Linked DNA regions of Homo sapiens. The protein of the gene in region 1 interacts with the protein of each later gene in a pairwise test. Each region holds a gene or a part of one and is shown in the gene's direction. Other genes may lie near its edges. The genes, in order: PRDM1 and A2M.

Region 1 (15,563 bases):
TCATTGTATGACTAAGTTGGTATCATTAGGTTGGAACTGGGTGTGTGTATGTGGGTGTGTGTGTGGGTGGATGTGTGTGCACACGTGTATTTAAAATGTTAGAAAAGACATTGCAGGTCGAAGGAGAAATGATTTTAAAAAAACCTACCTATGGTAAGGCAAGCAGGAAAAATGGAAGACCTGGATTTCAATGATCTAAATAATAATTGAAATGGGGTGTTTGCTATAAACATTGTTTCTCTGAATTAAAGGATTCCTTGCTGAAGGCACAAGACCATTGAAGGAAGTAAAGCATCTGGTTTGTTTTGTAATGAGAAGCAGGAATGCAAGGTCCACGCTCTTAATAATAAACAAACAGGACATTGTATGCCATCATCACAGGATGTCCTTCCTTCAACAGAGGACTGACTGGGCTGGAGGAAAAGCTGGCCGGGGCTCAGAATAAGCCCCACTAATTACTGCCTCCGACCGCTTTCCACTTGCAGTGATCAGTTCAATATTCCTCTGAACTGTGAAACGACTAATGCTCTACATTTTACTTACACTCCTGGGAAGTCAGCCTGTGGGTTCTGGGAGGAGAGGAAAGGAAAACAAACAATCTGTAGAATTATAACTTTTGCCTATTTCCCTATTTACTAAATAGTTAAAAGAGGAAAGTTAGTTCTGCCAAGTTTGAACGTTAGCAGGAGAAACGGAATGTTACAACTTTTGGGGCGGGGGGCGGGGAAACGTGCGTTACATACACAACAGCTTGAGGACCAGACAGCTCCACTGTATTACACTAGCTGCAAAAACAATTTAACTTGCTCTTTTGAAGTAAGATTTGTGTCTTTTGTACCTGGGGATTTGAGCTGAGAAATCAGAAACTGTGTAGGTAAATTTTAAGTTTCCTTAATTTAAGGAACGTGCGCCCCCTAATTCTGCCGCGCCAGGAAGGAGGGCGATCTGGAGTGTTTAGAATACAATAGAGCCCAAGTAAGCGTTGAGGTTAAGTGCCTTCAAAGGGAAGTAAGAAGATTCCAAGTCAATGTTGAAATACACATGCGAAGAGAGGAAGCTCTCGGCGGCTGTGCTAGCAATCTGGGGGAAAGCCCTGGGCTCGGCCAGGTGGTGTTGGCCACGTTGGCCACGCCCCCACTTCGCGCAGCCGAGTGGCTAAGGAAATCTTAAGCAGGGAGGGGAAGCCAGACGGTTAACACAGACAAAGTGCTGCCGTGACACTCGGCCCTCCAGTGTTGCGGAGAGGCAAGAGCAGCGACCGCGGCACCTGTCCGCCCGGAGCTGGGACGCGGGCGCCCGGGCGGCCGGACGAAGCGAGGAGGGACCGCCGAGGTGCGCGTCTGTGCGGCTCAGCCTGGCGGGGGACGCGGGGAGAATGTGGACTGGGTAGAGATGAACGAGACTTTTCTCAGATGTTGGATATTTGCTTGGAAAAACGTGTGGGTACGACCTTGGTAAGGAACTTGAATTTTTTTTTTTTAATTCTGAAATTGATCTGAAAACTTTATTTTCTTTTCCTTTATTGTTATTATTATTAATTTTTTTTGGCTAATGTCGCAGTAGAAACATGCTTCTGCTTTAGTGCACTTAGTGCTGTCAAACATTTGTGAGACTTTCCTTATGAATCATTAACCCTTTCAGTTCTAGACATAATTGCCAATTCATTGAAATTTCAGTAGTGGTTCCAGCTCACACTCGTCAAACTATTCCGGGTTGGCTGAAGTTTTCTATTTTATTTTATTTTTAACATGTGTTTGGCGTCATGACTCTACATGTTGGAACTAAATAAAAATAAGCAGGTTTGCTTAAATCATAACTGAGGGAAAAACAACTTTGCATCCAACTTTTTTTTTTTTAAGAGCATCCTATTTAGAGAAGTGGAAGAATGTAAAAACCTCCTTGAAGGACTTCCACAGAATGTTATGTTTACATTTGAACAAACACACATTCTTACATGGAAATGATACCCATATTCCTCATTTTTATCAAACATGTCTATATGAGAAAACCCTTACAGAAGTTGTTTACCTTTTTTTGCCTTTGGAAAACAGTTTTTTTCTGAGTGTGAGGGAGGATTTTGGGGGAATATCCTCATCAATGTACAAGTGGAAGCAGAGCTTGTCCTCCAAGTCTTCTAAATTTGTTATAACTTTAGTTACAGTAAACTGTAGTACATCAGTGACTTCTGGGAATTCATACACTTTCAGATTTAAATGGAAAGTGCTATTTGTAGCTGAGGACTCCTAAAGGAATTCTCTCCAGGGAATTTTATTAAACGGTTTTATGTTTTGTTTTTGCCTTTTCAATTTGGTATGAGATGCTTGCAAGTCAGAAGACACTGCAGGCTGTTTTCCCCTTCACCCATTTTTCCTCCTCTTTTCCTGTGGTCCAAGTGATTTCTAAGAGGCCGTAGCTCAGTGATGCTGGCAGGATGCAACCCTTTTCAGTCTTCCATGTGAGAGGATGAAAGAGAGCTCGCAGCAGAGGGAGGAGGCAGTTGTTTTGAAAGTTGTTTTGCGTTGGGAGCTGGTGGGAAAGTTCGGTCTTCCCCATTTGGAAAAGGCAGGCTGGGTTCCGCTCCTGCACCACACGCGCTTTCCATTTTTAGCTTCATTCAGAGGCAGACAGAGCTCCTTCCTCTTCCTCTCCTTGTTTGTGACACTTTTCTGAGGCAGCTTTTCCACAGTGCCGAGGGTCTGGCGGCCATGACCCCAGGCATTCTGGGACACTGGACTGTGTGCCCAGAACATTTTTCTGCCATGAGAGGTAAAGCCAGGGATTGTTCAGAGGTGATTCTTTTTTTTTTTTTCCTTTTCCCCACAGTGAGGTTGCCACATTCTTTTTTTTTTTTTTTTTTTTAACTAAGAGTAGCATTTAAAAACCTTGCTTCTTTTCAAGGCAGTTTACTTTATACGGCTTCTTGGCTCTTTCTCAACTGTACCAAGCACTCTGCATCTGCTTTTAAAGTCTTCAGACTACTGTATTAGTCATAGCCTCTCAGAAGGAGCCACAGGAACGGCGGGACAATGGGGATTAAAGGCCTTTCCTTTCTCTTCCAGGCTGCCCCCAAGTGTAACTCCAGCACTGTGAGGTTTCAGGGATTGGCAGAGGGGACCAAGGGGACCATGAAAATGGACATGGAGGATGCGGATATGACTCTGTGGACAGAGGCTGAGTTTGAAGAGAAGTGTACATACATTGTGAACGACCACCCCTGGGATTCTGGTGCTGATGGCGGTACTTCGGTTCAGGCGGAGGCATCCTTACCAAGGAATCTGCTTTTCAAGTATGCCACCAACAGTGAAGAGGTAAGCCTCTGGTTTATTGACAAGAAGATTGGGGACCTGGTGCCAAATCTCCCTACTTGCCCTTGAGGCCTTGTATATCTCTGAAAACCTCTGAGAATCTGTAAGTATCAGTAAATAATTGATTGCTCTATTCAATTCTTGCATTGCTTTCTCTTTCCCTAAACCATTTCCTTCTCATTTCTTCCAGCCTTCAACTGTTCCTCACTAATTAGTAAACAGTTAAATATTTTGGCAAATTGGCATGTCTTAGAAAAGCAACTTGCAGCATAGGGTGGGTGAAATTGTCAGTGAACTTCAAGAAAGCTCTGGGCCCACTGGCCCTAGTGTCCCTGTTGTACAATATCTCTTAAGGGAGAAAACTTTTTCTTGGAAAAAAAAGTTTTAATATTTCTTTTGTCTGTCTTTGGTAATTAGTTGGCTTTACTCTTTTTAACAAGCCAGCTTTATTAGCTGGGTTTCTAAAACTATCCTCAAAACTTTGACGTGTTTATGAAGTGAAGTGATGGTATAAGCCGAGAAAGGGGGTCATGTAAAAGTGTCCTCTGTCTGGATGACTTCAGAGCTAACCACTGTTTATCTGCAGCAGCTCCTTTGCTGGGGCTGGGCTGGCAGGCCAATTCCTTACTGGCCTCTGAAGTGGGTACACTCTTTGTTGTTTCAAAGGGGATGAAAACCCAAACTTGGAATGAGCAACTGATTTGTGTTTACCTTTAATATAAAGATTATAGCTAGGCGTGATGTTTAGCTGTGAAATAACTTGCAGAACCACCTCTTGTTTTCAGAATTTGGCTTACTGTAGTTGCACTTACTAGTCTACTACTGGGTTGAGTTGAATGAAAGGACCCCTCAGCAGACTTCCCATACCACCATTAGCACAGAGCACTGTCAATTCTATTACTTCCTTCAGAAAGTAGGGAAAGGGGATGGTTGGCCGTAGAAATCCAGAATTTGCTACTGGGACTATTCCTTACAGCCGTGTCAAATCACTTTCCCCCTTCCCTAAGGAACAGTATTTGAAGGAATCCGGGAGACTAGGAAATGCTTTGTCTCTTTCCTGTTTGTGTGTCTGAGTCCAGTGTTTTTGGTGAGGGGGAGACACAGCTGTCTAAAATTAAATAGAACAACGATGCTCAGTCTTTCTTTTTTCCCCCACTGCTGCGTGAATGGAGGCAGATTTTATAAAAAATAAAATTTAAATTCTAGTTGTAGTTGAATGTTACCAAAAAATTTAACCCCAGAGGTCAGCCTTAATTATACCTCTTCCTGAAAGTAATGCTCTTCTTATAGAAAGTCTCTCAATATGTGGCCCTTGGAATGAATGTAGGATTTGTTTGGGTATATGAGGTTTGACTATGGCTTTAAAAAGTGTAGTGTGTTTTTTCCCCATATCAAGTTTGACCAAATATTCGTCTGTTCCCAAGCTTCGTTTGTGCTGTGTTGCCCTGTCCAGTCCTTTGGGACTGAAGTAAAAATCTCCATTCTGTGGGTCATCTTTGCCTTTTAATTCTATAATGTTCTTATCGTCAGTTCAGCTCTTAGCTTAAGTTTTTCAATTTCCGTCATTCTCCTTTAAAATCATAGCTAAGTCAAGTAATGCTCTTAGATCATTTAGTTCAAGGTTCAGAAAGACAGTCACTTACCCAAAGGCATATAGGTAAAGCCAGACCGGGGACTTGAAGCAAAGCTTTTCTGACTTCTCCAATGAGTGCTTCTCGATTATGCTACACTGGCCCCTCTTGGTGTCACTGTGGTTTTAGTTATCATCTTAATATATTTCAGACCAATCCTTAAGCTATTTTGTGTTTTTTTCCCTCTGAATGTATAACTTCCTATTTCAATATATTAAGCAACCAAAAAACAGACAATGCCTGTGTTCCTGAAGAAGGTCCTTCGAAACTAACCTAAGAGGTGAGGGTTCTCTTATCCTATTTCCCTATCTTGCATTTAACTGAAGCGCTTGAATAGAGGATAGTATGTCTTTAAACCCTAATCATAAAGTCAAGCAAGGAGTAAACTTGAATGTAATACTGTCTTAAGCTTACTCTGGAATTTGTACCTGTTTTTCTGTTTCTCTCCTTTGTTTTTGAACTTTGGGAAAGGACAGCTTCCTTTAGAAGGTGAAAGAGGATGGTGGAGTTGAGCCATTAAGGGTAGGATAGCTGCAAACTAGTTCCGGGACAGCAACATTAAGGATTGATGAAATGTTTACATTATCTTTATTCAGTTAGTTCTTTAAGTTCCATGAGCCATTGAAATAGGAAGAGTCTTTCTACATGTACTTTTTATCTGACTTATTAATCTTGCCCTTCTTTAAATGTTTTCGTTTAAATAGCAAAAGATGTTACAATATGTACTATTGTGCTGACATACCGGGGAATTTTTTTTTTACAAGACCATTTTTCATTATGAATTTGTACCATGTGTCAGCACCTTTTTTTTTTTTTTGGTTAAAACAAAACATACAAATCATATTTCTGATCTTGACCCTCATTTTTAGATTGGGTTTAGAATCATTCTGCACCTTTAATGAAAAACTGTTCTTACTTCCTATTTCCAGAACTGAAATCAAATATAGACCTACTATTCAAAACTTTGAAAATGTTTTAAACTGATGGGTTATTCTTTTATGGGGGTTTTCCCCTTGTCCTCCTGAAATAATCTCTTATGACTACTTGACTACAGAAAAATCAGTTCAAGCATTTATATTTTAGAAGCGTTACCCTGTAGAGTTTCTGCCGTCGGTTGAGACTGCTTGCACTCAAGAGGCACTGTGGCTCTGTGAGTCTCACCTCCCTGTATCGTGGCTGATAAACATCAGACAGATTGTGAGGACTCCTTTGGTGTCCATTCTGATCGAAATCCATTATTAACTCAAGCCATCTGTAAAAAGTATCTCACCATAACATGCAATTCTCTCTTCATGTTGCCTTTTATTTGAGAAATGATGTACCAAGGCATCACCATGTCTCCTTTAATAGAAAGATAATGAAGAAGGAAACCTTCTCCAAACAACTTTGTTCACTTCACTCCTTTTAAAAATGGGGTGATTGCCGGGCGCGGTGGCTCACGCCTGTAATCCCAGCACTTTGGGAGGCTGAGGACAGCAGATCACCTGAGGTCAGGAGTTCAAGACCAGCCTAGCCAACATGGTGAAACCCCATCTCTACTAAAAATACAAAAATTAGCCGGGCGTGGTGGTGGGCGCCTGTAATCCCAGCTACCTGAGAGGCTGAGGTAGGAGAATCGCTTGAACCTGGGAGGTGGAGTGAGCCGAGATCGTGCCATTGCACTCCAGCCCAGGCAACGAGAGTGAAACTCTGTTTCAAAATAAATAAGTAAATAAATGCCATTGCACTCCAGCCCAGGCAACAAGAGCAAAACCCTGTTTCTAAATAAATAAAATAAAATAAAAATGAGGTGATTGCAGGCTGAAGGTCTTGGTCACTACTGAGTTCTAGTTCTCTCAAGACAAATATTCATATGGTCAAAACAGAATTATAATCTAACGAGTCATTCTTATAGAGTGGGATTCGGGGAGGGAAAACAGATAGCTAGTAATTTAAATGATCTTAATGTAATTTGGGGAGAGGATGATCAGATGACATTTAGACTTGGATATAGTTTCTGCTTCAAACCCACGCTGTGTGTGTCTGTTTGCATACTCTCTAAAGAAGGAATTTGAAAAAAAAAAAAAAAAACAAACCTATATTGTCCTTGTTATCAGCCTTCCATTAAGCGCTCCAACTCAACCCATCCTAAGCTGTCAAATCTCCTTCATTGTGTAAAATTGAAAAGAAGCCCTGTGTTTTGTCCGGAAGCTGTGGAAACTGTGGACGGCGGGGTGTGTTCTGTAACTGAGGCCACAGACAGAAACAAATCTGCTCAAGTGGTGGAGGGGTCTGCACCGCACATAAAGAGCTTCTGTGGGAGCAGGTGAAGCAAGGAGGTATTGAAGCCGGGTGTCCTCTTGCTGTTGAGTTTATAGAAGGCACAGAGCGGCCTGTCCCCAGCAGTAATTCTTTAGGACCCTGGTCAGTTCCAGTGAAGTTTCCTTCTTGAGTTAGGTGAACACATTCTTTGTCTTTTTAGCACTGTGAAGTTTAAGCTACACACCAAGTTCCTCCTTAGTATTTGCTTGGTTCAAAGATAAACTGTTACAAACTATGGGTCAGGGAGATGGGTAGTCTAAGATGCACATTCTGGATCTTTCTAGGACCAGAGGGAGACTTAGTACTTGGTTTTTTCACTTCCCTTTAAAAACAATCCTGGTTCCTGTTCCCCCTCCAAAGTTACCTGGACAAGCACCATAGTCTTAGAGTTTCAGCTTTTATGGCGTCTGTGTCTCAGACGTGCATTTGAGATGAAGATGTTTACTGTATATTAGAACGCTAGACTTAGAATGGATATAGGTGGTTTGTAAGTGCCTTCCAGTTTTGAAATTTTATGATTTTGTATCTTTATCTATAGGTGTGAGTTTATATGTGCCCTATAGCACTGTATGTAATTGAAATTTAAAATATTAGGGCGCTCTGTCCCTTTCCTAATGATAAGCTAATATTGAAGCTCTTTAATTTGTCTGGGGTTTGAGGATTATCATAGACCTCTCTTCTACCACAGAGCCTTCTCTTTTTAATTGTTCTCCTGTCTTGCCTGTTGAATTGAATTTGTAAGGTTAGAGATGGCAAGAGCTACTTCCGGTGCTGCTTTATAGCTTACTAGTGATGAGTCTATAGTTGTGCTCAAATAGGTATTGGGTAGCTTATGCTTTCTAGTTGACTTCTTTTTGGGCACAAGAAAATGTGTGTAAGATGGATAACTGAAAACCTAGAGGCCCATTCTGTAAAAGAATGGCAATTTGGAAGAAGAACCACGACCTCAGTGCAGTGCTCCGTTTTGGTAATCAAGCTCTGACTCCCAAGACACCATCTGTAAGAGACTATAATTTAAAACAAAGTTGATGAACCAGTTGAGTGCCTTTCTTAAAATTACTGTTGTAAAGTAGATATGTTGAAAATATCAACTGCTAATTATTGGCTCACCAACAAATGGCATGATTTGTTTTTCCTGTTTGTCATTCTAATATTATGGAATAATCACTGAAATATGAATGTTAAATGATTTGCATGTCATAGAATTCAATTCCATTAATTTTCCAAATTAATTAGATTCAATAATAATATGTCCAAAACAATGAGCCTCTGAATAAGTCTACTAAAGCTTTAAATATATATATTTATATCTCAAGACTGCTCTGAGATACTCTTGTCCCCAGTAGTTTTACTGCCAACAAATACCAATAATGACAAACGGTGATTAAAAGGGCAGATAGATGTAAATGAAGGCAGAGGAGGAGGATGAAATGAACATCTGCTTTTTTCAGCTCTCTGACAGAAATTCTTAAAGGACCAAAAATAACACTCTTGTTTCAACTTATGTTAGGTGTAGGAAAATTTTCTTTTTTTCTCTTTCCAGTCTGAGTATGCTTCATTGATTTGTATATTGAATACTAAATTGTTTTAGAAAAAAAAATCATTGGCTGATAAGACACTTAAATGAGAAAAGCTAGTCTGTCACAGGCATGTAGGTGTGCCATATCTATTTAAATAGAGGTTTAAATTATTGATGAGACTTAATGAGGAACTGGTGTATATTGTAACCAAAATTGTAGATTCCACTGTGAACAATCTGTGCATGGATCGATTCACATATTTGAGTCTACCATTTCAGGTACATGAATGTACAGGAGCTACTGGGAATATAAAAACTGGAAAATAAACATTATCATCTATTACCACTCCCTCCTCCTTGGTCCATTTTAGTAAAGAATTCAGTAAAGTGATAGGTAGGCTATCTTGAATGAGAAGAAAATAAAACTAGGAAAGTGAGAGAATAAAAACCAAAACAAAACTGTAACTGCAAACTGTTGTAAAGGACTACTCACAGAGGAGTTCTATTGAATAGTGACGAATTGCTTCCTGATTCACGGTTGGTGATTTTTTTACCCCTTCAAAGAGAAATTTATTATTAAGGAGGAACTGGTATAGTTAACATGTTTCTTTAGCAAGGCCCCACAAAGTTAAAATGTGTGATGCATCCAGTCTGAGGTCATTTCCTCAGATCTTAGAACCTACAGCTTTCCTCCGTATAAACTTAATTTCAAAGGAGGGCTTTTGGCCAGGCATGGTGGCTCAGCCTGTAATCTCAGCACTTTGGGAGGCCGAGGTGGGAGGATCGCTTGAGTCCAGGAGTTTGAGACAAGGCTGGGCAACATGGTGAGACCCCTTCTCAACAATAACAACAAAAATTAGCTGGGCGTGATGGTGCATGCCTGTAGTCCCAGCTACTCAGGAGGCTGAGGTGGGAGGATCTCTTGATCCCAGGAGGTCAAGGCTGCAATGAGCTAAGATCAAGCCACTGCATTCCAGCCTGAGTGATAGTGGGAGACCTTGTCTTTAAAACACACACACACACACACACACACACGAGGGCCTTTGACCACTCTTGAGTAGAAGACTCGAGAAGAACAAAGTAGAAGGCCAGAGAAGAACAAAGTTACTTGAAAGATCTCTTATTAAAGAGAATGTACAAGCTATGAAAAAAAAAAAACACACACACACACACAAACCTCATCTGGAATGAAAAAAACATAATGCATTTGGTTTCTGGTTCCTTAGGCTGTTATGGAACAACCAAAGAACATTATTTTGGTTTCTGAGGTCAGAACTATTTTATTCCCCTCAAGCACACTATGCTTATGGTTTGAGGGAGAATGAGAAATAGGAAACTAGGAACAGGCTGAAATGGTCTAATCTTGACCATCTAATTCTGCAGTGTCTTATTCTCATTCTAAAAGAGAATGGTTATATTCGCTGTTCTAGCATAAAAAGTAATGATAAAAATAAAAGATCCCGTATTACCAGACAATAATCCCCTAGACTGTTTTAATGCTTGGTTGAGTATTTGCTTATGATCTCAGACTTTAAAAGATGGTCTCCCCCTATGGTGAAGCTTGTTAATTATGTAGGCATCATTAATGTCTGTTTACTTATCAAAATTTTATCATTGTTAGTTGTATTACTACTTGACAGTCCAATTTATTTAATTGAAAAGATTGGTTAACATTTTATAGTCAAAGTAATTGTTTCCTGTGTTTTTTCCTGTTTAGGTTATTGGAGTGATGAGTAAAGAATACATACCAAAGGGCACACGTTTTGGACCCCTAATAGGTGAAATCTACACCAATGACACAGTTCCTAAGAACGCCAACAGGAAATATTTTTGGAGGGTAAGTAAGGGAAATTTCTTCAGACCCATTAAATGTTAGGAAAAAATGGAGCTAAAAGAGCTGGGTGGCTCACCTTTCTCATCCTGTGCTGAGAAATGCTGGGGCTCACCCATAAGTATCCAGCATCCCCATGGACACAGGGAATTCTGAACAAATGTGATGAAACCGATGAAATGTCTGGCCTGTAGGTGGTTAGTGATGGAGATACGGGCTATATGTGAATCTTGATTTTTGCAATTCATTAGAGCTTTGTAATGAAAGGAAACAGTTTGTTGCTTGCTTTAAGGATAGGTTCATTTGCATTTCTCCGCAAGGAAGTAGTAATGAGTTACCAAGCCTTAGATTTCACCCCTTTTTGATTTCTTGCTGACTTAACTTTAATTGAATGGAAGAGTTATCACAAATGAATTATCTTTTTGGTTTTTTTTTTTTTGAGATGGAGTCTCACTCTGTCACCAGGCTGGAGTGCAATGGCATGATCTCGGCTCACTGCAACCTCCGCCTCCCAGGTTCAAGCAATTGTCCTGCCTCAGCCTCCCGAGTAGCTGGGACTAAGGTGCGCGCCACCATGCCCAGTTAATTTTTGTATTTTTAGTAGAGACGGGGTTCCACTATGTTGGCCATGATGGTCTCGATCTCTGGACCTCGTGATCCGCCCACCTTGGCCTCCCAAAGTGCTGGAATTACAGGCAAGAGCCACCGCGCCCAGCCAGGAATGACAAATGAATTACCTTATAAGTAAATGCCATTAAGGAAGGATAGCTGGAAGATGGGTTGAGGGGAATGGAGGACCACAGAACTAGTCCTATTTAAATACATGTGCATGGTAAAATGATTCCATTTGACAATAGGTTAATTATCTCATAGCATAAGGAAAATGCTTAACAGTCATATGCAAGATGATAAGCTTTCCTATAGCATCCAACCAAAAGATCTAGCCAGTACAATTTCCTTTGCTATATTAGGGTTAGAAAGGCCCCCAGAGGTGAACCAATTAGATGGAATCCTTGAATAAAACACTGGATTAGCAGTGAACAGAAAAAAGTCAGATTGCTTTCCTTCTTCCCATAGATGTCTCAGGGATATTTAGTTTCCTCAGAAGATAAAGAATTTAGTAAGCGTTTTTTTGTGCATACTTACATGAAATGTACATTATTTGAATTCTTTAAAAAGAAACAGCTGCATGATAACAAAAATTGTGTTATGCTTGCTTTAGCTGGTATTTTTGCCTAGAACGATTATATCGTTCGGACAAGAAGCTATTCCTAAGAAACAATATTTTTAATCCAGGAAGTTTTTCATTTTTAGAAATTTATCTTACTATTTCCCAAGCAAAAGAGGGTAGTTACAGATTCACTAAGAATCATGTGCTCACAATTTTTATTTAATAATTATTCCTCCTTAAAATATATTAATCACCTGACTTACAATGGTGGAACCATGAGTGCATTTTTGCCTTTATTGTCAATAACGTCTTCTCAGAAGTGAGCCACAAAGGTGCATAGTTCTTGGAGTTAAAGGTCTGAATTAAGACAATCCAGCATAAGTCTCATTAATGTGTGATTATTTTGAGAAAAGGCAAGAAGTACCTAAGAATCTCCCCCTCACTGTCCAGTTCCCTGTTTCATTTAAAGATTCACTGTAAGTAACTGAAAGGCTTTCCTTGGGAGGATTTATTTGAATCAGTCTTTCACATGCAAAGGATATTGTAGAACATCTCGTTTTTGCTGGCAGGAATATGAACATCTGTTGTGAGGAAAGAAAAAGTTTCATGCAAATTACACTGCCAAAGAAGGGATGTTCAAGTTGAGAAACCAGTGACATTTCTTGTAACTGTACTATGAATCAGCGCATTTTAATCTTCTAGATAATATATGGAAGTGCAGGAAGGTGGTAGGAAACGGTGTTCATTTTACATATGCGTTATTTTATTCTGTGTGAGTGACTTCATGGCACCGACATTGCTGTTTTTAAATGAGGATACAGTAAATTGCAGTCCGAGGAAGGCTAACTGGAATCAACATACCCGTAGCTTTAGAAAGCAGTTTCCGCACCAGCGAAGAGTACAAGAGCGATGGAACCCCATGTTCCTGGAAGTTTGCACATCAGAGTAAACAAACTTGAAAACCCCTCTTGATAGCAGAATTCACCCAGCCTTGTTCCATTTTCTCTTAACAAAACACACCGCAAAAGCTCTCACAAGCTGCTTTGATGAAGCCACATGTATTTCCCCCTTCACAATTTACAGGAAGTTACTCTTAAAAGAAAGTGATTCTGGTGTTTACCGCCTGTGTTAAAGGGACAGAGTTCCTTTTTATTTCTGATAACGTTTGAGCGAAATACAGAAACTATCTGTAGACTAGCATAGTCGGTACGTGAGTAAGGAAAAGCAATAACCTGCTGTCCGGTGAGCACAAAATTCCTGCTACGAACAGTGCCTTACTGCTGCTTGGAGACTGCAAGTCGCAGATCACACTAGGTATTGACTGATTGTATAAGGAAATTTCTTAAAGTCTAAAGTAAAGGTGGTACCTCCTAAAAAGAGGGGAAGAGAGAAAACTTTGTGTGGAAGGATAAGGAGTGTGTTTATAGTTTCAGTAAGAGTGTACGTTTTAATTTTTCTTCTTCCTCTGCCTCTTTGCCAAGTAGCCTGAGTGCATCTGTTATCCAGAAGTAGTATTACTCTAGGACAAACTTCAAATTCTTCATTCTGCGTTGCCTTTAAGGAACAACATACTTTCTTCCTGTTCTTTTTCCAAAAACACACGCCTATGGCTCTGTGTGTGGTGTTTTAGCCAGCCTCCTCCCAGATAAGGGGTTCCCTTCCCTCCTTTGCATTGAAAGGAAAGTGCAAGTCTGGACATGTTTATCAAGAGGAAAAGTGACTTCTCAGTAATAGACTGTCAAATTCGGGCTGCTGCCCGAGTGTTCGCTTTGTTATGGCAGGTGAAGTTCACCTTTGCCCCACCCAGTGTTTCCACAAAAAGGCAAGGTTCCAAGTATTCATATGAACAAGTGTTACTTTAGGACTTGGAGGGTTGGGGGTGGAGGATGTTTGCATAGTTGAAGCCTTGGGCGGGGGTGTAGGAAACGGCGAGTACAGAGGCCATAGAAAAAGCTAAGACTCAGTTTGACGTCGTCAGCCGGCTTGGTCTTCTACCCAGTGACTCAAAGCACTAAAAGTCAGCATAATCGGAACTGAAGTCAGTAGCATCGCCCATTTGCCATTCACTGCAGTAGCAAAAGTAGTACTCTGTGGTGGGTTAATCGGTTTGAGGCAGCTCCTTAAATGAACATTTGTGTTTCATTTTTCTGTTATTTTCCCGAACATGAAAAGACGATAAAACTGAAATGGAAAAGGTAACTGACAAAAGTGTGCCTTACCTGTTTCCGCCCTGATTTCTGCTGATTCAAGACTATTCTGGCTAAACTGATTGGATTCTTTTTCTAACTAGGCAGTAGGGGATCAGAAATCACACACGGTACCGGCTGTGTTTATTCTGAGAGGTGCTGGGGAGCTTTGGGTCTGACTTCCTTTTACATGCCTGTCTTCTCTTTTGGACAGATCTATTCCAGAGGGGAGCTTCACCACTTCATTGACGGCTTTAATGAAGAGAAAAGCAACTGGATGCGCTATGTGAATCCAGCACACTCTCCCCGGGAGCAAAACCTGGCTGCGTGTCAGAACGGGATGAACATCTACTTCTACACCATTAAGCCCATCCCTGCCAACCAGGAACTTCTTGTGTGGTATTGTCGGGACTTTGCAGAAAGGCTTCACTACCCTTATCCCGGAGAGCTGACAATGATGAATCTCAGTAAGTGGATTACAGAACAAAAAAATAAAAAATGCCAGTAATGTCGGTTCTGCCCCTTTGAACTAATAACATGTTGTTTAATTATACGGCTTTGTCATGTGTTGGATGAAGTAGGTGGCTTAAGCTAGGGACTAGGAAGAGGAAAAACATTTTTTGAGTCCCTATTAACTATTAGGAAACTTGATCATTTAAAAGTATATATATATATGAGGAGCTACCTTGAGTTTTGAATTCAGGATGTTACAGGAAGAAATATATGTCCAATTCTAATTTATCCAAAAGCAGTTGGGAGAATTACAGGGATTGGTCCAGACATGCTGCGTATGCAAGGTATAGCCCTCATCTGTGGTACTTTGGCAGGGCTTAGACTGCATCAAAATATTTATAGATGTACATTTGAGTGTACAGTTAGGATCTGATGTGGAACATTGTAAGATCATTGCTAGAAAAACTTTGTCATAATTTTTCAATATTATTCTAAGTGAATAACCGTAAAGATTTTACATCTTAGCTTCCTTCCTTACAGTAAAAAAACTATCTGATCTCTTGATCAGTATTATAGTAGCCACCTATCACTTTATCTTAACAAATTCTCAATTCCTTAGGTTTATGTGCTTTTACTTCTTTTATTTGATTAAAATTGCTGTCATGACCTCTCTCTGCAGAGGGCTGCATCATTTTGGTCATTCTCAAGTGATCTCTTTGAGCAATTTAAGAATTGCCATAAGATTCTAACCTCTGCTGTAACTATGGTTGTGTGTTCTTGGTTAGACCACTAAATCTTATTAGCAGTTTTAAAAATTATTCCTTTTGGTTTAGAAGTTAAGACTAAATGCTGAAGTTTTTGTAACTTTTGGTTTTGATATCATTTCAAACTTAAGAAAACATTTGAAGAAAAGGACAAAGAATTTCCACTTACCCTTTACCCAGGTTTACCAGTTATTGATAAGTATATCCATTTGCTTTACCAGAAGGCTAACTTGTTTTAGTTCTCATTTTCACCTTTGAGACATTTGGAATAAATATCAATGTTAACATAAATTGGAATTTTGACTTTGATTTTAGGACCAATGAACAAGCCAAGTACTTACCCTAGTCATATATAATCCAACTGTATGGTTATTTGGTATTCATTCCACACTTCATTTTACT
Region 2 (15,563 bases), on another chromosome or scaffold:
AATTCTGATGTGGCTTCAAACATTTAGGTTAGGCATATCTAATGGAGAACTTGCAGCCACACTGACTTGTAGTGAAATATCTATTTTGAGCCTGCCCAGTGTTGCTTAAATTGTAGTTTTCCTTGCCAGCTATTCATACAAGAGATGTGAGAAGCACCATAAAAGGCGTTGTGAGGAGTTGTGGGGGAGTGAGGGAGAGAAGAGGTTGAAAAGCTTATTAGCTGCTGTACGGTAAAAGTGAGCTCTTACGGGAATGGGAATGTAGTTTTAGCCCTCCAGGGATTCTATTTAGCCCGCCAGGAATTAACCTTGACTATAAATAGGCCATCAATGACCTTTCCAGAGAATGTTCAGAGACCTCAACTTTGTTTAGAGATCTTGTGTGGGTGGAACTTCCTGTTTGCACACAGAGCAGCATAAAGCCCAGTTGCTTTGGGAAGTGTTTGGGACCAGATGGATTGTAGGGAGTAGGGTACAATACAGTCTGTTCTCCTCCAGCTCCTTCTTTCTGCAACATGGGGAAGAACAAACTCCTTCATCCAAGTCTGGTTCTTCTCCTCTTGGTCCTCCTGCCCACAGACGCCTCAGTCTCTGGAAAACCGTGAGTTCCACACAGAGAGCGTGAAGCATGAACCTAGAGTCCTTCATTTATTGCAGATTTTTCTTTATATCATTCCTTTTTCTTTCCTATGATACTGTCATCTTCTTATCTCTAAGATTCCTTCCAGATTTTACAAATCTAGTTTACTCATTACTTGCTTACTTTTAATCATTCTTCCCCAACTCTCTGAAGCTCTAATATGCAAAGCCTTCCTAAGGGGTGTCAGAAATTTTTAGCTTTTTAAAAGAATAAATTTTAGATATTCACATTCATATTGATCTACTTGAGACCATGCTATTTATCTTTTCTTATTTCCTCTTTCTCAAGGGTCCATTTTCTATTTTATAAAAATAAAGACAATTCTCTCCCACAACCAAACATGGAACAATGCCCTGGAGTATAAAAATCTATAGAGTGCCAAATAAAGGAACAATTTGAAATACTGGTGTTGATATTGAAAAAGCAAGGGACTCTAATGTCAGAAGAGAAATCCTTTTGCAGATGAGGTGGTGATGAATTCTTTGTTTCAACACAACTGAAGGAGGAACTGAAGGAAATACCAGCTGATGAGTGATGAGAAGGGATTCTTGATAATAGAGTACTAGGTGATTTTTGGCATGTAATGCAGAAGTTGCAAGAAGTGGTAACAATGATGCAATTGTTTTACCTGCCATTTATTTACTTTTATGTGAGCCATTCTTCTTAGCACTTATAGCTACACAAAACAAAAATAGTAACAGAATTAATGTTGTTTAATTCTTGCAATCCATGGATGCATAAATTCACTGGGGGAAAAAACAGCTCATCATTCTCATTAAAGATGTGCTTCAAAAGTATTTTAATTTTATATCTAATATGTATGAATCATACTTTGTATTTATTTTGTTTTGATCAGTTATATACAAGTATTTTTGAACATAGCTCAGTCAGAAGGAAATGTTTAATATTTATAAATTTATGGTTACATTCTATTTAAAAGAGGAGTTAAAGTTAAATTTACCTACCCACATATGTTACATATATATGTATTTATGTATATGTATTCATATATGTATATATGTGAACATAAGTATACATACGTATATGTATAGATGCTTGACAATAAAGAAGTAAGAATAATTCACAACATTTTTTGAAATATAAAAATTTAGGATAAATTTCTGTATGGTAATTGGCATGGAAATTCAAATTCAAAAAGGAAAAAAGAAGAGAAAGATATTAAATATCAGACCATTAAAAGAATTTTTTAATGTACTTTTAAATAGTGATAGTAGGTATCTTATACTACAGTGTTTATTATTCATGAGAAAATTGTAAAAGTAATCTAAGTATTAATTTAAAATATCATCAAAAATAATATCTTTTGCTATTACTTAAAATCATGATAAAAATATGTTTACTTGAAAATATGTAAGGAGTGCACAGAGTCCAAAAATTATTTTAGGAGTTCTGTGAGCAAAAATGTATAAAAACTACAGGGTTGATCTTAAATTACATGTCAGGGTACTGAGAAAGTTTCTGTACTGCACATGAGTTACCAAGGTCTAAAGTCAATCACCAGAGGACCATTTTTGGATGGAGCCATTGTCTAATCATGAGCTGAAAGGCAAATATTTAAAATGCAAACATCCATGGTTAGGTAACACTCTTAAGACCTTATTAGCTGCTTACCACAACTGAGACTGTGAAGTAATGGCTCACTTTCTTTGAGGCTCAGATTCCATATCTGTGGAGTGGAAGCGAGTGCTTACCATACAATTTTCACAGGGCTGCTGAATGTGTGTATGTATGTATGTGTGTATATATATTTTAATGAAAATTCTATAATTTGATTAGTTTTTGTAATGTCCGCATGACTGAGAGCTTGCTTACTTTTTACAGCAACTTGAAGGTAAAAATAGATTTTACAACATGAACAAATGTAACTACATATTTTTATTTGAATTCAGATGTTCACAAATTGTTCCTTAAAGTGAAGCATGCCTACAAGTTTTAATCTGTTTAAGACCTACCTCAAGTAAAATGTTCACTGCCATGGCATGTGAGGGAAAAGGGAAATAATTCTTATGCATGGCCTTCAACGGCCAAATTTCATGCTCATCAGTACATCTTCTCTTGGTGTAGAACTGATGATGATAATTATGATGATGGAAAAAAGTGCTGTTGATAGCAATGCCTCTCTTCCTTCACTTTCCTCTAACTGAACCGTCTCATTCCCAGGCAGTATATGGTTCTGGTCCCCTCCCTGCTCCACACTGAGACCACTGAGAAGGGCTGTGTCCTTCTGAGCTACCTGAATGAGACAGTGACTGTAAGTGCTTCCTTGGAGTCTGTCAGGGGAAACAGGAGCCTCTTCACTGACCTGGAGGCGGAGAATGACGTACTCCACTGTGTCGCCTTCGCTGTGAGTGTGGCTGTTTGACTTAATATACTTGGTTCTTTTAGTCAGGGTCATAGGGATCTAGTATTCTGTCAGATGAGGCTTTGGGAGGTTGGTAAGAACTGCAGGAAGGAATCCAAATGTAGCAAACTAAGTATAGAAATTAAGGAGCAATGCATGACTCTCCAGCCATGGGAGACAAATATTTACAGGCAAACTAAAAGTCAGCTTAATAATCACATAGAAACCCTATTAGCCAGAAAGGAAAAAAAAAAAAAGAAAATGTGACTTCTTAAAATTAAGATGGAAAAAATATTAATAAAGCAAACTAGACCAAGGCTCAACATGAGCCACCCGTGGTGGACTGACAGGAACACATCACTCCACACTACTTCTAAGAGTAAAAATTGTAGAAATTACCCTGAGCAAAGGTGTAATATCTCTTCAGAGTTGTCCACATGTGAGATGCTTACAGCCTAGTGTCAGTAAAATACGGGGTTTTTTTCCATAGCCTGTAAAACATGCTTCGACCATGCCCTTTTAGCATGTAATATCAGCCTGGTAAAGCTCAGCGTATAATTGAATCAAGACTGTTTCTGTGAGCTGTATGAAGGTGTGAATCTCACTTACAACCTCTCTTACTGATTTATTTTCCTCCACCTTGTGTCCTGTCTCCCCATTTGTAAAATGGCAGAAGTGATTCCTGTCCATGCCAACTTTCCCTGCTGAGAACAAGGGAGTGAAGTTAAGTAAGAAGGGCAAGATCTCCAGGGAAGAGTGCAACAGCAAATAGGGGAGGAGACCTGCGGGTGCTGAATGGGGTTTCAGGATCGGTCCTGTATTTCAGGTCCCAAAGTCTTCATCCAATGAGGAGGTAATGTTCCTCACTGTCCAAGTGAAAGGACCAACCCAAGAATTTAAGAAGCGGACCACAGTGATGGTTAAGAACGAGGACAGTCTGGTCTTTGTCCAGACAGACAAATCAATCTACAAACCAGGGCAGACAGGTATGAAGAAGCCTACAGACAGGACAACTTCAAAAAGGAAAGATCTTCTTCCCCTGGATGTTCCCCAGGCAAAGTTCCTATAATCTTGGTTCCTTAATAGCTTGTCTTACCAGCCTACAGGCCTACTTTGGGTTTGGGGGCTCATGAAAAATATTTCTGTTTCAGTGAAATTTCGTGTTGTCTCCATGGATGAAAACTTTCACCCCCTGAATGAGTTGGTGAGTTTTCTATTATCTACATAAAATGATTGTCTGTATAAACAGGCTGGGAACCTGTTTTTTGTGCTGAGGGAAGACCAGGGAGAGGAAGAATCTGGTATCATTAACAGTAACTTCTGGCATTACAACAGCACAAGATCCTAATCTAAAACATCATTCCAGGTAAAGAAAGTAGGTAATTCTTTCTGTCTTGGTGCTGGTACTCAGTCAGTTGTCACACAATTAAATTTACTTTTCGGATGGTTCTTAATTAGGACAATTAGAAAGATACATTCAATAGCAGACACAGAAAAATCCTCAAAGAACCTAAGCTCAAAAAACATTTTAAAGATTTAGATTTTTTCTATACACATCTACCAAAATCTTCACTATAAAGGAAAGTCAGGGTAATTAATTTGTTCCTCAAGACTAACTCTTGGTATCTGTGATAAGAAACAGTTCTTTCTATTGTAATGCAGACATCAACCCAAAGTCTTCATTTTTCTCTCCCAAATTAACTTCTTCACATTTTCTTATCTCAAAAAGAGGCAACTCTTCTCTTCTAGCTCCAAAGACAAAAGATTATGGCCTAGTTCTTGTTTCTCTTTCTCTCATACCCACATCCACTTCACTGGAAAATCATGTTGGCTTAAAATATATTCAGACTATTTCTTATCATCTGAACTACTGCTGCAAGCTAGTCCTAGTCAATGTCATCTCTAAATAAGATCATTACAATAACCTTCAAAGTGGTCTCCCAGCTTCTACTTTCACTCCTCTGTCTAAAATGAGGCACCACACCCATCACTCTGTCAGCCTAACTTGGCTTTGTTTTTCTATTTGCACTTACCACCATTCTATACGTATTGATTTTTAAAAATCTGCCTATTTCTATTATAACATAAGCTCCATTAAAACATGGTTTATTGTTCTTTTGTGCGTGGTTATATTCTCAATACCTAGAATGATACACAGCGCATGAGAAGGTACTTAATAAAGATTAGTTTTTAAAAATGAATAAACATTCATAGTAGCTTCTTATCAATGTTTATTCATTTTTAAAAGTAATATTTATTAAACTAAATTTATTAATGAAATATGTCCATTCCTCCTCATTCTTAGAACTACGTAAGAATTCTATGACCCATCTTAATGATTACATCTGAACATATTTACTTATAGTTACATAAGTGTTTATTTCTCAACCTGTAAAATTGCATAGCAAAGGATTGATCTTCACTAGGATGCTATAAGCACTTAAGACATGTTAATCCATTTTTAGTAAATGGCACTTTACATGTATATTTGTTGCTGAAGGCCTAGTAAGTTCTTAACATTATTTATTAATTGCTTAAAATAGATTAATGAAAAGTTCTATAAAATTTAATCTGGAATATTTCTGTATTTCACTATAGAGGGAATTATTCTATATGAAACTAATTTAGATTTTTTAAACTTTTTATTGTTTTTAATTTTTGTGGAAACATAGCAGGTATATATATTTATGGGTTACATGAGATATTTTGATACAGGCATGCAGTGCATGATAATGATTATGGATGATAATCATTATCATTATCCATATCATTATCCAATCATGGATAATGATTATTATCATGCATTGCATGCCTGTATCAATAAATGGAGTACCCATCCCCTCAAACATTTATTCTTTGTGTTACGAACAAATCCAATTATACTTTTAGTTATTTTTAAATGTACAATTAAATTATTTTTTACTATACTCACCCTGTTATGCTAGCAAATACTAGCTGCTTTGCTTATAAATGAGATTTAAGAATATTTGAAAATAATTATAAACTTCTTTTTTCTTTTGTCTTTCAGATTCCACTAGTATACATTCAGGTAAGCAACATGAAACATTCCATATTAAAAGGAAAGCAATACATATAGGGAAAATGTTCTTATTTCAGAGGTTTTTACAATATCTCAGAAACTTGTCATTAAAGGAGAAGCCTTCAAACTCCCATAGAGCTAGATGGCTATAACTCATCTCCTCTACTCACCCTTTACTACTACCCCATTTGACCTTTTTGTAGATAACTTAGGGTTTCCATAGATATCTTTTATTAGCTCCAATGCTCCAGGTGCTTTTGTAAGTTATAATTAATTTACTCATATAGGATCCCAAAGGAAATCGCATCGCACAATGGCAGAGTTTCCAGTTAGAGGGTGGCCTCAAGCAATTTTCTTTTCCCCTCTCATCAGAGCCCTTCCAGGGCTCCTACAAGGTGGTGGTACAGAAGAAATCAGGTGGAAGGACAGAGCACCCTTTCACCGTGGAGGAATTTGGTATGGATCATGAAAAGTCATCAAGCATTATTTTTCTTCATATTTAAACTCTTAGGTCCTGGAATTTAAGTTCATTTGGAGTCTTTCCATTTCCCATGGGTGACATTGGGCTTGGAGTAGAATTAATTACACCTAAGTCCAATGAGGACATCAGTGATCTGTGAATAGGACTTCACATAGCTTCGTTATTTTCTGTAGCAATATTTAATACCAACCCCCAAAATTAAAACATTCTTGTTTTAATGGAGTTTTCCATAATTAATTAAGCACACAGTGATCTCTCATAGTCCCTCAACTGAAATCTTCATTTGAGAGGAGGATAGATAAGAATAGATTGGAGAGCAGAGCTACCTTTTCAGAGCCCTAAAATATTATTAGGGAACTGTTACAGGGAACCTGAAAATAGGAATTCCCCCAAAGTTGAAAACCAATCACCAACCTTCTTTATCACCAATCAACAGTTCTTCCCAAGTTTGAAGTACAAGTAACAGTGCCAAAGATAATCACCATCTTGGAAGAAGAGATGAATGTATCAGTGTGTGGCCTGTGAGTTCATTTTTTAAAAATCTTTTGTGGGGGATTATTTAAAAGAGACTCACCATTTGGGATATTTTAACTACTCTCTCCGGGAGCAGTGGCAACACAAAAATTTTAAGTGCTTTGACAGCATCCTCATCTGTAGAATGTTATTCTCCTGTTGCTTTTCTATTTTTATTTTCTTTCACGTTCTTATCAGTATTATTCTATCATGAGGTAAGAAACTGTTTCTAGAGAGGTTATGCTAATAGGATTGATTCTGAAAGTGACAAAACTGCACACACACACACACACAAAATGGGAAGGGTGGATAGTGTTGAAGGGTATTGGTTCTGCCTTAACCAAAAATAACCAAACGTATATTAGGGAGATAATTAACACATGGCTATAGGGGAAATTCAATCATCAACAGATCATTTACCTGACCTTGCATGCTTACTGGAAAAATCACTTAGATTCAGAATTTGTAGAGATAGGCATACAACTGAAATCTCATCTAACTCACTAGTCCACCTAAGGCGGGTCTACATACCTGTCTGCACTGACATTTTTACGAAGAGACTGAACGTGATTTCTCAAGACAGTCTGTTCCAACCTTGAAAAGTCTTGTTTCCTGGATCTTATGTTCCCATCCATGGTGGCACACAGTAGCAGTAGCAGGAAGAGCAGGTATAGTCCTGTCCAAAGATCACACATGTAATACACCTACTATTCAGCTAGGCCCCTGCTCCAGTTCTGTCTCACAGTGATGGCCAAGTTCCTGGTTCCTCATAACTGGTGTGATCTTGCAAATAGACATACAGAGGACATTCTCAAATAGGAAAGGAGACAAATGCACTTGGAAACCCAGCAATTGTCTATGACATATTTACGACACAATCCCACTTTTGTAAAAAAGTAAACAGGCCCGGCGTGGTGGCTCACGCCTGTAATCCCAGCACTTTGGGAGGCTGAGGTGGGCAGATCACGAGGTCAGGAGATCAAGACCATCCTGGCTAACATGGTGAAACCCCGTCTCTACTAAAAAATACAAAAAATTAGCCAGGCATGGTGGCCAGCGCCTGTAGTCCCAGCTACTTGGGAAGCTGAGGCAGGAGAATGGCATGAACCCAGGAGGTGGAGGTTGCAGTGAGCCAAGATCGCACCACTGCACTCCAGCCTGGGCGACAGAGCGAGACTCCATCTCAAAAATAAAATAAAATAAAATAAAATAAAATAAAATAAAATAAACAAGTGAAACTCGATATAGAGATGGCTGCACATGGGGAGAGGATGATGGAAGAAGAGACACTATCGTACTAATAGTTTGTATTCCTAGGTAGACTTGAGGGCGTTTGGGTTTTTTTTGTTCTGTTTTGTTTTGTTTGTTTCGTCTTGCTGGTATTGTTTCTCTTTTAAGAACGGGTTTAAGTTTTATAATAAGAAAGACTTTTTTAAGATAAAACTAAAAAAAAACGAGGAAAAAAAAGAAATGATAAAAGAAGAATGTAAATTTCAGCATGTTGCAATGGAGATTTCTATAAGAGCCATTAGTGACTCTTGTCTTCAATATTGTGTGAGCCCAGCAGAGAGCAGAGGGAAGTACAGACAGGGAATATACTGTAGCTAAAGGGGAGATATAAATAGCTAGAAAATGGGGAGGTTCAGTGTCTGCTCTGATTCCTTTGGGAATGTTCTCATGACAGATACACATATGGGAAGCCTGTCCCTGGACATGTGACTGTGAGCATTTGCAGAAAGTATAGTGACGCTTCCGACTGCCACGGTGAAGATTCACAGGCTTTCTGTGAGAAATTCAGTGGACAGGTAGGTTGAACACTATTTTTTCTAGAGAATAGCGATAAAGGCATTGTTGAAAAGCAGTGAGTTGCAGCATTTTTCTGACGCAGGAAGAGAACAATCTAGAAGAGAATTCCATGTTGGCTATTGTAATTTTTCAAAAAAAATCATGAACTTAGCACAATGGGAATTATTTATTTCTCGTAATTGCCCATTGTGAGTGTTTCAGAACGATAGACACTGAGCCATCTAAAGCCTCCATGGGCATTCACTTCTACAAAGGAAGGAAAAAACCATACACCTCTTAATTGCCTTAGCTGGCCAGGCCATCAGTTCTGCTCTCTCTGTGAACAAGAACCTATCACATGGCCCCACCAAGATGCCAGAGAGTTGACAAACACAGTCCCCATATAGAAGGCCGCTTCCCAGCCACAGCTGAATATTATGGAGGAGGAACCAGACTTTGATGAGGAGTTCTAATGGTCAAGAGCAGATGTACTGTGTATTTCAAAATAGCAAGTGGACAGGACTTGAACTATTTCCAACACATAGAAATGATACATACTTGAGTTGGTAGGCACCCTAAATCCCGCGATGTGATCATTACACATTCTCTGCATGTAACAAAATATCTCGTGTACCCCATAAATATGTATAAATATTATGCATCCTTTGTACAAAAAAAATTACTCCTCAAATTTTAAGACATTTCTATCGCAATATATCTAGGGAATTTCAGATACCAAGGAATACATCTGTCAATTATACATGAGATATTGTTGTGAAATTTAATATTTAGTTGCTAGAGAATATTTATTGTGTCCTCGTCATAGAAAATGCCTACATGATGTTGTCCCCCCACAAAAATCACACCGGTTATCTGACCACTGATCTATTTAGTATAATATGCATTATATTTTTGTATTTTATTTTCTCCCTTCTTAGCTAAACAGCCATGGCTGCTTCTATCAGCAAGTAAAAACCAAGGTCTTCCAGCTGAAGAGGAAGGAGTATGAAATGAAACTTCACACTGAGGCCCAGATCCAAGAAGAAGGAACAGGTTTGTGTACTACATGGGTATAAGAGAAAACACAACAGGCATTGATTTTCTTAGCCAAATAATGAATTGTAAGTTGGGGGGAGGTGATAGAATTTTAGAGACATCATTCTTCCCAAAAATAACAGATTTTTTTCTCTTTTTTCAGTGGTGGAATTGACTGGAAGGCAGTCCAGTGAAATCACAAGAACCATAACCAAACTCTCATTTGTGAAAGTGGACTCACACTTTCGACAGGGAATTCCCTTCTTTGGGCAGGTGGAGTATTTTCCAGTTCACTCATCAACCCATGTACTGTTACCTAATTAGCACAATAGTTATGGTTTGTGCTAAAACCATGCCTGGTTAATGTTATCATTTAATATAACCAAAAGTATAAAATATCACCAAGGCTTGATTAGTATAACCAAAGGTATAAAACTACATAAAAATAGATTTATTCTTCTGTAAATTTGTGTATGAAATGTATGTAATTATCCTAAGGCCTTATTAAAATTAGTAGAGTTTTCCCCCCTTCTTTTGAAACAGCATTGTACAAGTCACTCAATCTCCTTCTCATGGTTTACCAGGCAGTCTCAGGTTTTTATGACATTTTCTCACAAGAATCTCAAAATTCATGCTGACCAGTTTCATTACGATGCTAACACTAACTTTGTATGGAAACAGGTGGGTAGGTGGTTTTAATTTTTATTTTGAAGTATTAAAGATTCTACAATAATGTTTATTTCATGGATAGTATATTTACACTATTTTTCTATAACAAGTATATTTCTAAAACAGTGAACATGGGGTAAAACACTGCTATTTAAGGTTCTCAGATTTTTGAATTATGAATTTTCATGTTATCTACCAAAAAAATCTTCTCTTACAATTTTTCTGTTGTCAGCAGATGTGCAAATGGATCTTTATGACTCTAGAAGTCTGAGATCACAGTTACATGTGCCTCAATGTGTATTTACTGTGTATCATTTTCTTAATGTAAATGTTACAGGATTTCAGCTATGAAGGGTGTAAAAGAGGCATAGACTCAACAAAGTGGAGTACATTCTAGAAGGCTTGGTTATGTCATGACACCAAAATGTATTCAACTTCCTAAAATGAAAGTGTAGCTCATTTGTAAATTTCTCAGAAAGATAGTGTACTTTGTAAGTACATTTTATTGCTGTTAAATATCCTATTTGTCATAAGACTCTCTAGCTAGAAGAAAATCAGAATTATGTGCCTATTCTTGTCTTTGTACATGCAGCCAACATTTCACTGGCAAACTTAGATTTTGTAAATCAATTATGAGTACTGATGGGGGTCAGCCTATTGTTCTTCCTGCTACCAACTGTAGCTTATACTGAAAAAGAATTGCCACCTTTACAATCTGAACTGGACTACTCAACTGCCAATACAATATTAGCAGTAAATTAGATTTGGCAACTTATTTAATACTGTGTGCCTCTTTTCAATTTTATATTTTTCACATGGGAAGTGTGTCATAAAATCTGCCTACCTTCCAAAAGGCTGAAGATCTAGGTTGAGAAGCAGAGACCATGTCTAAGGCAACTGGAGAAACACACAGGACAATGTATTGGCAATTGTTTACTTGTGCACTTATGAGACTTCAGACACTAATCTATAGGAAGTTAATGGTCCACTCCAAAATAGGTGTTTGGGGCACAAATAAATTTAGTTAATAGATTAATAGATTAAAATATTTCATTATCATATTACTCTAGTGCTCTGTGACTCTCTAAGAGTTATATATAATAATACACAGCACTTCCAAAATATCTAGAAGACATTTTTCAGGTCACTCTTGTTATTATCCCTATCACTCTCTATCCCTTCACACTGCTCTGTTTTTCTTCTTAGGATTGATTACTACTAAATTAGTGTATGTTATGTATATATTTATTTAGCATCTATCTCTTTCACTAGACAGTAAGCTCTGTGATGGAAGAAACTTCGTTTTTTTTCACTGCTGTGTCCTCAGTGCCTGGAACCATGTTCAACATAGAGGAGGCACTAAAAAATGTGATAAATGAATATGTTTGGTGCCTATTAGTTATTACCAATATAACTAATCCACAGCTTTTAATCTTCAGGTGCGCCTAGTAGATGGGAAAGGCGTCCCTATACCAAATAAAGTCATATTCATCAGAGGAAATGAAGCAAACTATTACTCCAATGCTACCACGGATGAGCATGGCCTTGTACAGTTCTCTATCAACACCACCAATGTTATGGGTACCTCTCTTACTGTTAGGGTAAGTTTGGAAAGAAATTACCAATGACATGAAGTAGCCTTGGAAACAAGGTTGCAACCTAAGGGTGAGAAAATTTCCAAACTGTGTCTAGTTCTATGGAGAGAAAAAAACTAGCAATTAGAAACCGATTGAAGGTTAACTTTTTTAAAGTTTATGAAAAGAAGGCAGTATATTGTGATTAAAAGTGCGGGTTAGACTTTAGCAGTGTTGCTGGGAACGTAAAATGGCGGAGCCACTATGAAAAACAGTATAGTAGTTCCTGAAAAAATTAAAAAATAGAATTACCAAATGATCCAGTAATCCTACTTCTGGACATATATTCAAAAGAATCGAAAACGGGGTCTCAAAGAGCTATTTGCACACCCGTGTTCATAGCCGCACTATTCACAATAGCTGAGAGATCGAGGCTACCCAAATGTCCATCAAGGGATGAACAGGTAAACAAAATGTGGTATATAAATACAACAGAATATTATGCAGCCTGAGAAGGGAAGAAAATCCTGTCACATGCTACAGCATGAATGATCCTTGAGGACGTTATGGTAAGTGAAATAAGCTAGTCACAAAAAGACCAATACTGTATGATTCACGTACATGGGGTTTCTAAAGTAGTCAAAGTCATAGAAACAGAAAACAGGATGGTGGTTGCCAAGGGCTAGGGAAAGAGAGAAATGGGGAATTCCTCTTATTGGTATTCAGGTTTAGTTTTACAAGATGAAAAGTTCTGGAGATCTGTTGCACAACAGATATACTTAATACTACCAAACTGTACACTAAAGAATAATGAAGATGGTAATTTTATGTTGTGTGTGTGTGTGTGTTTATAATAACTTTTTTGAAAAGTGTGAATTCCAGAATCTGAATCAGATAAAGTGGTTAAAAATACTGGCTCAACCCTATTTTAAGGAATTAACTAAAACCTCTGTGCTTCATTTCCTTATCTGTAAAATGATTGCAATACTAACACCTGACTCTTGGGGTGGTTGTGAAGATTAAGTGAAATCATACATGTTGAATCACTTAGTAAGCCCCCTTTAACTGTTAGATACTTTTACTATAAAAGCCAATTCTAACATAATTAGCATTTAGTTTTAAATATATATACTCCAAAAATTATTACCTTACTTTATTTTGTCTTGCTATTCTAATTTTCTCCAGATGACCTGTTCATACCAATATAAGTTATTCGGTATAGCATGCAGTCCTCTATTCATCAAGAGAGATGTAGACATGTCTATAGATACATGGATATACAATACATATTTAATATATATTACATAATCATGGTAATGGAAAACGCCTGCCTCTTTAGAGTTTTACCTTGTTATAGAGAAATAAATAATACATTTTATTTATTTAGCTTTAATAGATGGCATAAAAGCACCTCCCTCTAATTTGAATGTTTACTCATTTCAAAAAGTGTCTTGAATGCTTTCCACGTGCCAGCACTGTGCTAGTCTTGACAATGAAATTATTATTTCTACCTGTTCCCTGTTTGGGGTGATCATATATGTGTTGTCACCAAAATATACATTAAGATATGAACAAAATGTTTTGCTCAAGGATTCACTAGTGCTATTGGGAGCTGGGGATGAAGGTAGAGGAAGCCTGAAAGGAGCTAAGGAATAACTTCTACAGGAAGAAAAGTTGGAAATATAACCCAAATAGGGCCTCTGAGGTATTAGAATCCAGATTGCAGGGAGCATTAAAAATAGTCAGCCTAGGCCAGGCACGGTAGCTCACGCCTGTAATCCCAGCACTTTGGGAGGCTGAGGTGGGTGGATTGCGTGAGGCCAGGAGATCGAGACGAGCCTAGGCAACGTGGTGAAACCCTGTCTCTACAAAATATACAAAAAATTAGCTGGGTGGGGTGGCATGCACCTGTAGTCCTAGCAACTCAGGAGGCTGACTGGGAGGATCACTTGAGCCCCAGAGGCAGAGATTGCACTGAGCCAAGATTGTGCCACTGTACTCCAGCATGGGCGCCAGAGCAAAACCCTGTCTCAAAAAAATAATAATAATAGCAATCAGCCTAAGATAGCCCAGAAGAGGTAGACTTCAGCTAATTCATCAGCTCAGCTCTTAAACCAATGCTTTCTACCAATGTCTTCTCAGACCCCTAAGGTTACAATATTTTATTTATTCATAATACCCATTCAAAATCCACCCTAAAAGAGGCAGCTGCTTTCTGAAAGCACAGTTCTTCCATTTCTAGAGATTATTTACTCTCCTCAATGAAGTTTCATAGCTCCAGTGTCTCTAATTGCACAGGTAAAGCAGTCAAAGAAATTTCAAGCAAGCTAATCAGAGCAAAGGATGCCTCCTTTTATGCTCTTAAGAAATATAAATCTCAATCCCAGGAGGCTCTGCAGTGTAAAGTCACAAAGCATGCCTACATTTGAAGCAGAGAAACAAAATCAGGGGTCCTTCTCCCACTTTTCATTGTGGAACAAAAGATTTCTAGCTACTAGTTAAGGTAGGACAGTAAACTTACGTAGTTTTGTGAGAACATTAATCTTTATGACGTATAATCTAAAAATAATATAATTTTTCTAATTCATTAGGTCAATTACAAGGATCGTAGTCCCTGTTACGGCTACCAGTGGGTGTCAGAAGAACACGAAGAGGCACATCACACTGCTTATCTTGTGTTCTCCCCAAGCAAGAGCTTTGTCCACCTTGAGCCCATGTCTCATGAACTACCCTGTGGCCATACTCAGACAGTCCAGGCACATTATATTCTGAATGGAGGCACCCTGCTGGGGCTGAAGAAGCTCTCCTTCTATTATCTGGTGAGAAGGGAGGTTACTGCGTTGACTTCACTGTAGACAAAAGCTCTCTGTGGAGCAAGTAATCATGAAGCTCTTTAGATGTCATTACTTCAACTTCTTATCCATGTTCCTTTTGAAAGTTTGATTTCTCTTGAGGTGAATTATTGCCGGCAGGGACTCAATAAAACAAGTATATTGAAGTGAGACTGAAGCGTGTTCTCTCTGGCACATTTAATTTCTTTTTATTTCCTTTTTTGCAGATAATGGCAAAGGGAGGCATTGTCCGAACTGGGACTCATGGACTGCTTGTGAAGCAGGAAGACAGTGAGTATTTCCATCATCTCTGCATTGCTGCCCCATTCTGACCCATTCAGCCTTACACCACGGAAGTATCAGAATACTTTCCCTTTTTTTCCATAGGTTTTTGGGGGAACAGGTGGTGTTTGGTCACATGAATGAATAAATTCTTTGGTAGTGATTTCCGAGATTTTGGTGCACCCATCACCCGAGCAGTATACATTGTACCCAATTTGCAGTCTTTTATCCCTCACCCCCTTCCACCCTTCCCCCTGAATCCACAAAGTCCATTGTATCATTCTTATGCCTTTGCATCCTCATAACTTAGCTCCCACTTCCTAATAGCTTAGCTGCCACTTCCTAATAGCT

The links.
Region 2: the proteins of PRDM1 (region 1) and A2M interact in binary tests that used the Homo sapiens proteins (3 or more experiments, as listed by UniProt).

The regions. Positions count from the first base shown.
Region 1 is NC_000006.12:106,085,142-106,100,704, forward strand, and holds the start of PRDM1 (PR domain zinc finger protein 1), read left to right. Parts: upstream 1-1,194; 5' UTR 1,195-1,412; coding exon 1,413-1,454; intron 1,455-2,612; exon of another isoform or gene 2,613-2,705; coding exon of another isoform or gene 2,706-2,789; intron 2,790-3,059; coding exon 3,060-3,308; intron 3,309-10,473; coding exon 10,474-10,593; intron 10,594-12,947; exon of another isoform or gene 12,948-13,072; intron 13,073-13,799; exon of another isoform or gene 13,800-13,944; coding exon of another isoform or gene 13,945-13,953; intron 13,954-14,158; coding exon 14,159-14,411; intron 14,412-15,563. UniProt on the Homo sapiens protein: Transcription factor that mediates a transcriptional program in various innate and adaptive immune tissue-resident lymphocyte T cell types such as tissue-resident memory T (Trm), natural killer (trNK) and natural killer T (NKT) cells and negatively regulates gene expression of proteins that promote the egress of tissue-resident T-cell populations from non-lymphoid organs.
Region 2 is NC_000012.12:9,100,802-9,116,364, reverse strand, and holds the start of A2M (alpha-2-macroglobulin isoform a precursor), read left to right. Parts: upstream 1-445; 5' UTR 446-515; coding exon 516-601; intron 602-2,821; coding exon 2,822-3,005; intron 3,006-3,675; exon of another isoform or gene 3,676-3,828; coding exon 3,829-3,988; intron 3,989-4,153; coding exon 4,154-4,206; intron 4,207-6,030; coding exon 6,031-6,051; intron 6,052-6,329; coding exon 6,330-6,498; intron 6,499-6,959; coding exon 6,960-7,044; intron 7,045-8,720; coding exon 8,721-8,841; intron 8,842-9,759; coding exon 9,760-9,874; intron 9,875-10,019; coding exon 10,020-10,129; intron 10,130-11,964; coding exon 11,965-12,126; intron 12,127-14,690; coding exon 14,691-14,918; intron 14,919-15,157; coding exon 15,158-15,221; intron 15,222-15,563. UniProt on the Homo sapiens protein: Is able to inhibit all four classes of proteinases by a unique 'trapping' mechanism. This protein has a peptide stretch, called the 'bait region' which contains specific cleavage sites for different proteinases.